Linked DNA regions of Homo sapiens: region 1 is linked to region 2. Evidence: fine-mapped expression QTL. A gene starts in region 2. The other region holds a variant in brackets. All regions are shown on one strand. Distances are from middle to middle. Region 1 has its middle 33 kb from the start of WLS. Region 2 holds the start of WLS (Wnt ligand secretion mediator).

What was found.
Region 1: its variant is fine-mapped to the expression of WLS in whole blood (TOPMed, PIP 0.99).

Annotation. Positions count from the first base shown.
Region 1 is chr1:68,262,667-68,268,047 of GRCh38, reverse strand. No RefSeq gene overlaps it. Among named protein-coding and RNA genes, the nearest start is that of WLS, 33 kb to the right of the region's middle. The variant G/C (reference allele first, on the strand shown) is at 2,504.
Region 2 is chr1:68,229,940-68,235,261 of GRCh38, reverse strand. WLS (Wnt ligand secretion mediator) reads left to right here and starts at 2,739. Exons shown (of 12, transcript NM_024911.7): 1 at 2,739-3,068. The coding sequence starts at 2,963.

The DNA of each region.
Region 1 (5,381 bases), 33 kb before region 2:
TTGCTCCAATGTTATGATGCCTACAATGTCACTAGGCGAATAGGAATTTTTTAGCTCCATTTTAATTTTATGGAACCACCATCCTATAGGCAGTCTGTCATTGACCAAAATGACATTATGCAGTGCAAGACTGTATTTTTATCTTGCCAAGTTCCTTTTCGATCCCTTTCCAAGTGCATTAACTGTGAATCCTTATTTTTAGCTGATTAATTATCTAACTCCTCTTTCACAGGCACAAGAACCAATGTGAACCCAAAGCAATGAGGAAGGAAGGCAGGAAAGGGAAAATAAGGGAGTGTTCCTTGTTGCCCTGGAGGCTTGGAGGAAAGCTGCTTAATTCTCAATTTATTTTTCTCCATTTATTCAGTCAATAAATGTTACTACAAAATTTTTAAGTACTTTTCATTTCTTAAAATTCTTCAGCTGTGTAATTACTTGTTCATTGATCTTCTGCCCAGTTAGACTGTAAGCTATGCGTGAGGCCAGAGGCCAGATCTGTTTTTTCTCGTTTTTTTTTTTTTTTTTTGGTTGCAGTGTTGCAGTGAGCCAAGATCATGCCCAGGCTGGAGTGCAGTGGTGCAGTCTCGGTTCACTGCAACCTCCACCTCCCGGGTTCAAGCAATTCCTGTGCTTCAGCCCCCCAAGTAGCTGGGATTACAGGCATGCGTCACCACACCCAGCTAATTTTTGTATTTTTAGTAGAGATGGGTTTCACTATGTTGGCCAGGCTGGTCTCGAACTCCTGACCTCAGGTGATCCGCCTGCCTCAGCCTCCCAAAGTGCTGGGATTACAGGAGTGAACCACCATGACTGGCCTCAGATCTGTTTTTTCTTAATCACTACTGTATATCTAGCGTCTAACCTAATGCCTAGCACAATGCCTTAAGAGGCATTTAGTAAATGTTTGTTGGTTTGAAGTATGGGAATTGCAAGTCCAGAGGACACATTTACCAAACTAGGAATGGAAAGGAAGAAGTAAGGAGAAAATGGTTGTTAAATAGTGGGTGAGAGTCTATACATTAAAAGGAGAGCGTGCATGCTCTAATGTACTTTATAATAAATGTGGTCTATTTGATTAATGCTGCCAGCTCAAATTTGGGTCTTCTGGAAAAAAAAAATGATGAAACCATCTCCGGAGACATTTTGTATTCAGTTCATTTAATATTTATACTGAGTTTCTTAAGTCAGCATCCTCAAGGAGACCAAAAATGATGGTTGGAATATGGAGAGTAATGCTCAGGAGGATGGGGTAAGAGCACTCCCCACTCACCCAGTCCTAGATAAATCAACATAGCCTGAGTTAAATTTAGGTACTTCTCTAAAGGGTGGAGGGACTACTCCAGAATAGTCCAAAAGGAAATAACATTCTTTCTCATCTCTTTCTCCACAAGACTCTAGCAGAGCTTTAAAAAGTAGGTTTCTTATTACAAGGAATAAAAACTATATAAATTAGAATAGAGATCAAAAAGAGACCCCAAAATTCAATGATTTAGTAAGATAGAATTTCACTGTGCTTTCCCATAACAGTCTATAGGTGGGCAGACCAGGCTAGTAGATAGCTCTGCTCAACAAAATAATTAATAGACCTAGATTCCTTCCATTTTGTTGTTCCATTATACCCTATTAAGGCAGTATTTCTCAAATGTTAACATGAATTTAAATCACTGGTGGATCATGCTAAAATGCAGATTCTCATTAGCAGGCCTGGAATGGGGCCTGAGATTCTGTATTTCTAAAAAGCTTCCGGGTGATGTTAATGCTGTTAGTCCAAGGCGCACACTCTAAGTAGCAAGGTGTCAGGGCATTGTCATCATCTTAATGGTCAAGGCTGGGTGACTGGCATATCTGTTCTCCAGTTTTCAGTAAGGGGTTAGAAAACAAGTCTAGGGCAAGAAGTTGTCACTAAGTAAACTATGTAGAAATAATATACACATCTTCTTTTCATATTCAATAGTCAAGGACTTAGTAAGATGGCCACACTTGGCTTCAAAGGGACTGACGAATGTCTTTAGTCTCTAGCTGGGCAGCCATATTACCATCTAGAAGGGAATTGACATTACCATACACAAGGAGAAAACTGATATATTGGGAAACAGTCAGCAGTTCGCACCATGAAAAATAAGGAGCCAGGAGCTTATATAATTAAGCAATAGAAATGAAATGTAACACCAAGAAGTAGATGTATGGGCCAGATATTGCACTGAAACCTATGAAAACAGCTTTGGCAAAAAGCTATTGGATCAGAAGTCAAGGATCATTGATAGCATTCCATTTTTAATTTTCAATCTCTGGCATGCTTTGCTTGCACATCCTCTGTGACTTGTTCGTAAGAGTTGCTGATGATAGGAGAGGTAGCAGCAAATGACTCTGAGACTATTTTAGTGACACTGAGTGGACTCTGACATGTGCTTATGGTTAGAAAAAACAAATATAAACAAAAATCAAGAACATAGCTAAGATTTCATTAAAGACATTAGGTCAAATACTAAAATAATCCAAGCAT[G/C]AATTAGGAGCTTCTGGATGTGTTAATATATAACATGAATTTATATATCCCTATGGCCAACAGTTTACCCAGAACACATTTCAAAACTTACCTGCTTCTAACAGCATCAGAAACAAAATTTATTGTTCAGCCCCTTGGATATGACACATTTTCTTAGAATATTCAGTTGCATAATAAATTTTAGAAGCTTCCAGCAAAGAAAATTTCATAACTTTTTCTGTCATACCCACATCAATTCAACATGTAAGTATCCTCTGCCTTACACAAGATCTCTTTTGCATCTAATCTCATTAGAGTGACCGTCTGAAACACTTCTGAGCCTGAAAGGGGCATTATTAACAATTATGCTGGGTATAAATCCAGCATATAAATCCAGTTGTGTAACCTATGACTGTCCTGGGTAGCCCAGGATGTATAACTCCAAGTCTAGGTTGTACCTATCGTATTTTCTTTTCATCTTTTTTCCTCAATTATTAGGTAGAAGTAGCAGACATTAATGTATTTGTGAGTAAGTTTCTTTAAGATTGCAATGAATAGCCACGTGTGGAGGCCCACCCCTGTAATCTCAGCACTTTTCATTTCTTAACATTCCTTAAGTGAGGTGGGAGGATTGCTTGAGCCTAGGAGTTCAAGACCAGCCTGGGCAACACAGTGAGACCTTGTCATTCCAAAAAGTAAAAAAATTAGTCGAATATGGTGGTGCATGCCTGTGGTCCCAGCCACTCGAGAAGCTGAGGTGGGAGGATCACTGGAGCCCAGGAGGTCGATGCTACAGTGAGCTGTGATCACACCACTATGCTCTAGTCTGGGCAACTAAGCAAGACCCTGTCTCAAAAAAAAAAAAAACCAAAAAATACCCCAAAAAGATTGCAAATGAATAGTCAATAGCAGATTACCTTGGTAATGAGAGTTTGTTACAAATAATTTAGGTAATGAAAATAAGGTGAGGTTATGACTGGAGAGCTGTACCATCAGTTTTTTGGCTTGTTTGTTTGTTTTGAGACAGAGTCTCGCTCCATCACCCAGGCTGGAGTGCAGTGGCACTATATTGGCTCACTGCAACCTCCACCTCTTGGGTTCAAGCAATTCTCCTGTCTCAGCCTCCCAAGTAGCTGGGACTACAGGCACCTGCCACCATGCCTGGCTAATTTTTGTATTTTTAGTAGAGACGAGGTTTCACCATATTGATCAGGCCAGTCCCAAACTCCTGACCTCAGGTGATCTGCCCGCCTTGGCCTCCCATAGTGCTGGGATTACAGGCGTGAGCTACCGTGCCCAGCCGTGGTGTCAGTTATTTTTGACCCTAATCCTGTACTTTAAAGAATAGGATGTAGGACAGGGTTAAAATTCAACATAATTCAGGATAAAGCCTCCACTGTCTCCTCCTCTCTGTGTGCCTCTGTTGGGCAGAGATTTTGCCAAGTCTTCTCAAGGTACTTGGCCTCCCTCACATCAAGTTTGTCTTCTTCAATCAGTAATGGCCAGGGAACAAGGATGGGTTGACTCACTGAAGATGTTGTTAACTTTTTATAGAAAAAAAATACTTGAGGATCATTTACTCTGACTATAGCATGTCATTAAAGCTGCTAGTGATATATGACTGTAGCATGGACATAGAACTCAGGGACATTTCTCTAGTAAAACAAACTCGGGACATTGTATACTTACAAACAACCATAGGAACAAGCTGACTATCAGTCATAATTAGAATATGCTGAGAATGTATTATGGTTTCCTACTAGGACATCCCTTGTTTGTTTAAATCACAGAGAAATAGTGCCACTAAAAAGTATAAAAGAGTGGACATCGTTGAACTGGAGAATTAAAGAAAGACTAATTAAAACATCATAGTTGAGGAAAAGAGAATAAGCCTGGTTTCCCCTTGCAATTCCAAATTCCAGCTTTTACTGCTAAACAAAAGCCCAACTTATGAAAAGTAGTATAAATAAGATAGAAGTGTATATCTCTCTCATATGACAGTCTAACAATATGGGATAGTAAGACAGCTTCATAAAGTTAAAAGCCCATTAAAAGTTGGAATTTGGAATTGAAGGGGAAACCAGGCTTATTCTATTTTCCTCAACTATGATGTTTTAATTAGTCTTTCTTTAATTCTCCAGTTCAACGATGTCTACTCTTTTATACTTTTTAGTGGCACCATTTCTCTGTGATTCCTTCTATGTCTGCATTCTGGGTGGTGTTGTCCTCTACTACATGGTTGAAGGTAGATTCCCAACCCGTCTCCTCAGTCAACATTTCACCAAGCAGAAAGGGGGAAGGGTTCAAGGGCGAGACATGCTTTTTGCTTCTTCTGCTCATATCCCATTAACTACAAGAAAGGCTGAGGAATATCTTTGGTAGCCAGGAGTTCTAGTAGGGTCTAGCATATCATAGTAAAGGACAAAAAAAGAATGGATACTAGGAGATTACTAGCAATCATGCCATATAATAGAAATAATAACTTAATCTATCAATGAATGACTAGGGGGAACCTGTTGGCATTATTTAGTAACCTTATATCATAGGAAAGTAAGGCTCACAAAGGTTAAACGATTTACCTAAGGTCACATAGCAAGTAATCATGGGAACCAGGACACAAATCCATGTCAGTTGACTGCAAATGATAGGTTATTTCTACCACTCTGTGATGTCTTTCCAACTGCTTTTCATATAAATTTATAAAAAGGAAAATAATGGTAGAAGATATCAGTAAGAGTTATTGTCGAAGAAATGTCAAAAGGCAGGAATACTAACTTTTTTCATTGTATAGATATAGAGCTTTTATAGATTCTGAAGTATTTCGTTGTGCCTTTTTTTTTTTTTTTTTTTTTTGAGACAGAGTCTCGCTGTGTCGCCCAGGCTGGAGTGCAGTGGCGCG
Region 2 (5,322 bases):
GTGGTAGCTCACACCTGTAATCCCAGCACTTTGGGAGCAGAGGTGGGTGGATCACCTGAGGTCAGGAGTTCAAGACCAGCCTAGCCAACATGGCGAAACCCCATTTCTACTAAAAATACAAAAATTAGCTAGATGTGGTGGTGGGCACCTGTAATCCCAGCTACACAGGAGGCTGAGGCAGGAGAATTGCTTGAGCTCAGGAGGCAGAGGTTGCAGTGAGCCAAGATCGTGTCACTGCACTGCAGACTGGGCGACAGAATGAGACTCTGTCTCAAAAACAAACAAACAAATAAATAAACAAAAAACCCACCATTTTTTCTCTACCCTCTTATGCATAGTGCTTGGGGGTCTGTGGACTAAACTGACAAAAGACAGATTAGCAAGGCAAAAGACAAATTTTTGTTCACATATATCAAATGTATGTGGGCATTCATAACCACTCAAGGAGGCAGTTGTTAATAGAATTTGGAGCTTATATTCTATCTTAATAGGAGAAGAAGTGTATTTATGAGAAAACAAATGACTTTTAGGAAAGATAAATGGGCCCTTAGGAGTGCTGGGCTCAGAACATGATACCCCAAGGTATCTGAGTACTTTGAACTGAAGGACATTGGAAGGACAACAATTCTGTCTACTTCATCCTTTCTGATAGTACCTGGTGTTTGCCAAAGTAGAGGTAATTAATTACTATTCAGTGAATAACATTTGGACTGGGGGGGGGTTCCTCTGGGGCAGGTGCAAGTACTTTGACATCTTGGTATCCTTGAGTGCTTAAGAAAGAAAGCCTGGAACATGTTAAAGGCTCAATAAGTGACTTGGATAAAGAGTTGAATGAGAGAATAGATAAACAGCAACCACAGTCATGCATTGCTTAATGATGGGAATACCTTCTGAGAATGTGTTGTTAGGTGATTTGTCATTGTGCAAATGTCATAGAGGGCACTTACATAAACCTAGGTAGCATAGCCTACTACAGACCTAGGCTACACCGTGTAGCTGATTGCTCCTAGACTACAAACCTGTCTGGCATGTTACTGTACTGAACACTGTAGACAACTGTAATGCAATAGTAAGCACTCTGTGTATCTAAACATATCTATAGAAAAGGTGTTGTAAGAATATGGTATTATAACCTTATAGGACTACTGTCACACACACGGTCTGTTGTTGACTGAAACATCCTTATGTGACACATAATGATGTGTATATCCTCAGAACTGTTAAGAACTATTAGATGTTGAAGAGATGGAGTTTTGTATGCATAAAGTTTGGTGCTTGTCCTTGACAAGTCTCTGTTCTATTTGGAGATTAGAAATGAATGCTTCTATTAAGTGTAACCTGCATGACATCTTTTATAAGGGCAATGAAAATTCAGGAACAGAGTAGAGGAGGAGAGAGGACTGGGAAAAATAGTCTCTTGGCATGAAGAGGGTGTGTAAGGATGGGAGGGACAAGAAACAAGATGTGTGGGTGGTGGTGGTAGAAACTGCACGTTTGGGGAGCAGGGTGGGGTATTTACCAAACCAAGGGTCTATTGAGTAAGGTGAGTTGTACTGGCCAAGCGGCCAGTTTATGAAACATGGAAAAACCAGGCCCAGAAATTTAGGCTTGATAGAGCAGGAAATCTCTATCGGGAGCCCCGCCCCTCTTTTTATGGAAGTTAAGTATAAATATAAATATATGATTTCTCACAAAGAGACAACAAACATTGTAACTTAATATAGGTACCCTCTAAACCAACTAAGATCTCTTTAGACCTTTGAAATACAAACTGTGGGCTTGCTTTCACATTCACTTATTCATTCCACAAAAGATTATGGGGCACCTACTAGAGCTAGCATTTTGTTAGGCACCATGGGGGGTACAAAGAACAAAAAAAACTTGGTCCCTATTCCCCAGGAGTTTACAGCTCAGTGGTGGAGACAAACGTGTACACAAATCCTTACAATAGGAGGTAAAAATGTAAATACAGGATTGTAGGGGCTCAGTTCCCAGAGATACTGCATGGAGGTGGTGTGGAAAATTAGAAAGATTTTTTAACACTAGTTGGTTTTGGATCAGGTTTAACATTGATGGAGTAGAACATGTTCTCTTTAAGGCAATAACCAGGGTTAAGGCTGTGGAAGCACATGTGCTGGAGTAACGAACAGTGGTCTGATTTGGCTGGAGAGCAAGTTTCCTCAAGGGGCGCCGTGGGGAATTTAGCTGGGTATGTGCCCAATAACCGAGGCTGGGAATCTGGTAGAAAGAAGTCGAGCTGAGACTTTATTCCGCATCTCTGTGTTTTGACTTAGGCATCTATTGGGTCCTTTTAAAAAAAATTCTCCTCCTCTTTCCTAAAGAGAGTTCTAGCAGTTGGGGGTGGGGTGGGGACCATTTCCTAAAGTCAACGCGTAAGTTAAAGGTCTGCAAGGCGGTCCACCGGTGATTTAAATCTCGCACTTCGGAAACCAGAAAAGGAAACCTGTGAGAAGCTGGGCAGGGGGAACCCGCTTAACATCAACAGCAACCCCTAAATGGCATCAGACCTTGGAGAGACAGGTTGCAGGCCAGACTCGGGAGCCAGGCGCCAGCACCCGCCAGAGCTCTGAGCCCCGAACTGGTGGGCAAGGGGTAGAGGAAGAGAGGGAGGGAGGGAGGGAGGAAGCGCGAGAGGGAGGGAGGAAGAAAGGGAGGGAGGCGGCGTCATGTGATCCGCTTCCCTGCTCCTTTAAGCGTCCACAGGCGGCGGAGCGGCCACAATCACAGCTCCGGGCATTGGGGGAACCCGAGCCGGCTGCGCCGGGGGAATCCGTGCGGGCGCCTTCCGTCCCGGTCCCATCCTCGCCGCGCTCCAGCACCTCTGAAGTTTTGCAGCGCCCAGAAAGGAGGCGAGGAAGGAGGGAGTGTGTGAGAGGAGGGAGCAAAAAGCTCACCCTAAAACATTTATTTCAAGGAGAAAAGAAAAAGGGGGGGCGCAAAAATGGCTGGGGCAATTATAGAAAACATGAGCACCAAGAAGCTGTGCATTGTTGGTGGGATTCTGCTCGTGTTCCAAATCATCGCCTTTCTGGTGGGAGGCTTGATTGGTAAGTGCGGAGAGCTGCAAACTTTTCCCCCTTTCTGTCTTTTCGGGCCCCTTCCCTCTTTGCCTCTTGGGCTACTTGTTACAGTATCACTGCCTTGCTTCTATGATCTAATTAGTCCGGCTATTGTGCTTAAGAAAGCAGAGCTCCATGGGGCTCCGTGGGGCACAATCCAGTCTAGTGGCTAAGAGAAAAGGAGGGGAAAAAGTTTTGGCCTAGTTTCAGTATCCACTTGAAAGGCAAGAGGGGGGCGGCGGGGGTGGGAATCTTAAGCATGGCGACGGATCGCGCGAGGAAGCGCTGGGTTACAAAGTTGATTGCTCGCCCCCCCCCCCCCCCGCTTTTTCCCGCGTTCCCCCCCTTTTCCTCTCGGTTCCCTTCCAATCAGCTCCGGGAGGGCAACGTAATCGACTTTATTAGGAACAACAGAAGAGTCGGGGAACTGTGCCCGGCGCAAACCCGGAGCTCTGTTACAAGGCTGAGATACTTGCACGGTTGTAAATGCATTTGGTCGTCTTTGCTAGGGGCTGAGGGTTTGCAATTTGGGGTCCCGACCTTCGCGCCCTCTGCTTTCCCGCCGCACTCCACCCCACGCTCTGCCGTGGACAGGTCCGAATTGTCGGCCGGGAGGTTGGGTGGGATGGGGTGGGGTGGGAGGGAGTCCTTGACCAGCGCCGCGGGAAGTTGGAGAGGTCGGAGGGGAAAAGCGTATCCGAAAGGTGTTGCTTTTGGCCTCCTGCCCACTCGTGAATATCCCTTCCCCCACTACTTAGAGCCCCGAGAGCCGGTGACTGTGAATGTCCCCGTCCTCTTTTGGCGCTTAGGAGAGCGCCCTCAGCTCCCACCACAGCCCCCCGCAGGTGACAGCTCGCCGGCCTCCTCGGCGACAGCGCCCGCCCCGGGAGACCTCCCCTGGCGTGCACCTCCCGGACCTCTCTGAGTCAAACAGGCTTCCGGGTGAAGAAAACCGCCTCACGGACCGTCCACTCGGAAAAACTCCCTTCCCCTCACTGTCTCCCCATCTGCATCCATCCTCCCGCCTCTCTGCACACTCGCGCCCCCCGCCCCCTCAAGATTTGGGACATCCCGGCACAAACTTCAATGCCAACTTTGCAGCGGGCGCGGACGGGAGGTTCGGTTTCCTTACTTCACGGCTTTGTTAAACTTTGCGGAGTGGGGAGTCCACGGAGGGGCTTTCTCCGCGCGTGCCTTTACGGGCGCCCACGCGATGTGGGGTGCGGGGAAAACGCCCGGGGGCGCCGGCGGCGTCGCTGCCAGAGCTGCACAGGCTTGGGCACCTCCAGTCGTGTGCTTGGCGTTTTGTCTCCAGACTTGGGTTTGATGGGAACAAATTAAAGGGAGTTTGGTACTGTAAATCACGGTAACATCCAAGCCAATTGTCTTAAACAAAGGAGAGTGGGTGAAGCTTCATCAAGGAGAGAAATACCTAAAGGAGACAGTGCTCTTTTCTCTGTGTGCATTTATCCACAAAACAGAAAAGGGTTCAGAGTTTTCAAACAATCTCTTATCCCCAGTGTGGGCCAAACAGCTTCACATTTTCTTTCTGGAACCCTCACCCTCAACACACACACACACACACACACACACGCGCGCACACACACACACGGGTTGGCTTTTGTGTTAGGAGCTTCTGTTTGGCTACATGCAATCTCGTTTCCCCGTATTGGATTTTTCGAGGCTCTTAATACCTTCTCTGCTGGGAGCTGAAGGCAGCCTTCCCTGTGCCCTCACAGTGATTATGCAGCGGTTACAATTACACCTCTTGTCTCCCTTGATGAGCAGTTGCAGTTAGATGCCATTGGATCTTGTGTGATTTCAGTGGCAGACCATAATTAAAATTTCTTGCACCTTGTGCTTTCAGAATTAAATTGGCCTATTATCCCTGTCTGACCTTCATCCTCTTTGAGGTTTTTGCACAAGCAGCAAACCATTACACATAGTTTCCTGGTGTTTGTTGGTGTGTTTCTTTTTCTAGGCTGATCTCCTAGCTTTGCAGACAGAGCCCATTATCCAAGAAGTAGGCTTCCTAGGGCACTTCTGAAACTAGTAGGATTTCTGGGATGCTACCACCAAGGAGAAGCCCTAAGGGCACTCGTGAGTGGCTGGTGGACATTGGAGCGACTATAGGGTCAGAACACTTGTCTGTTCCAAACAGGGTTTGTCTGGAGTAAGTGGTGCCAAAGATTGTTTTTCCCGAAGAATTTGGTTAATGACGACAACCTCAAAAAGTCCGCGG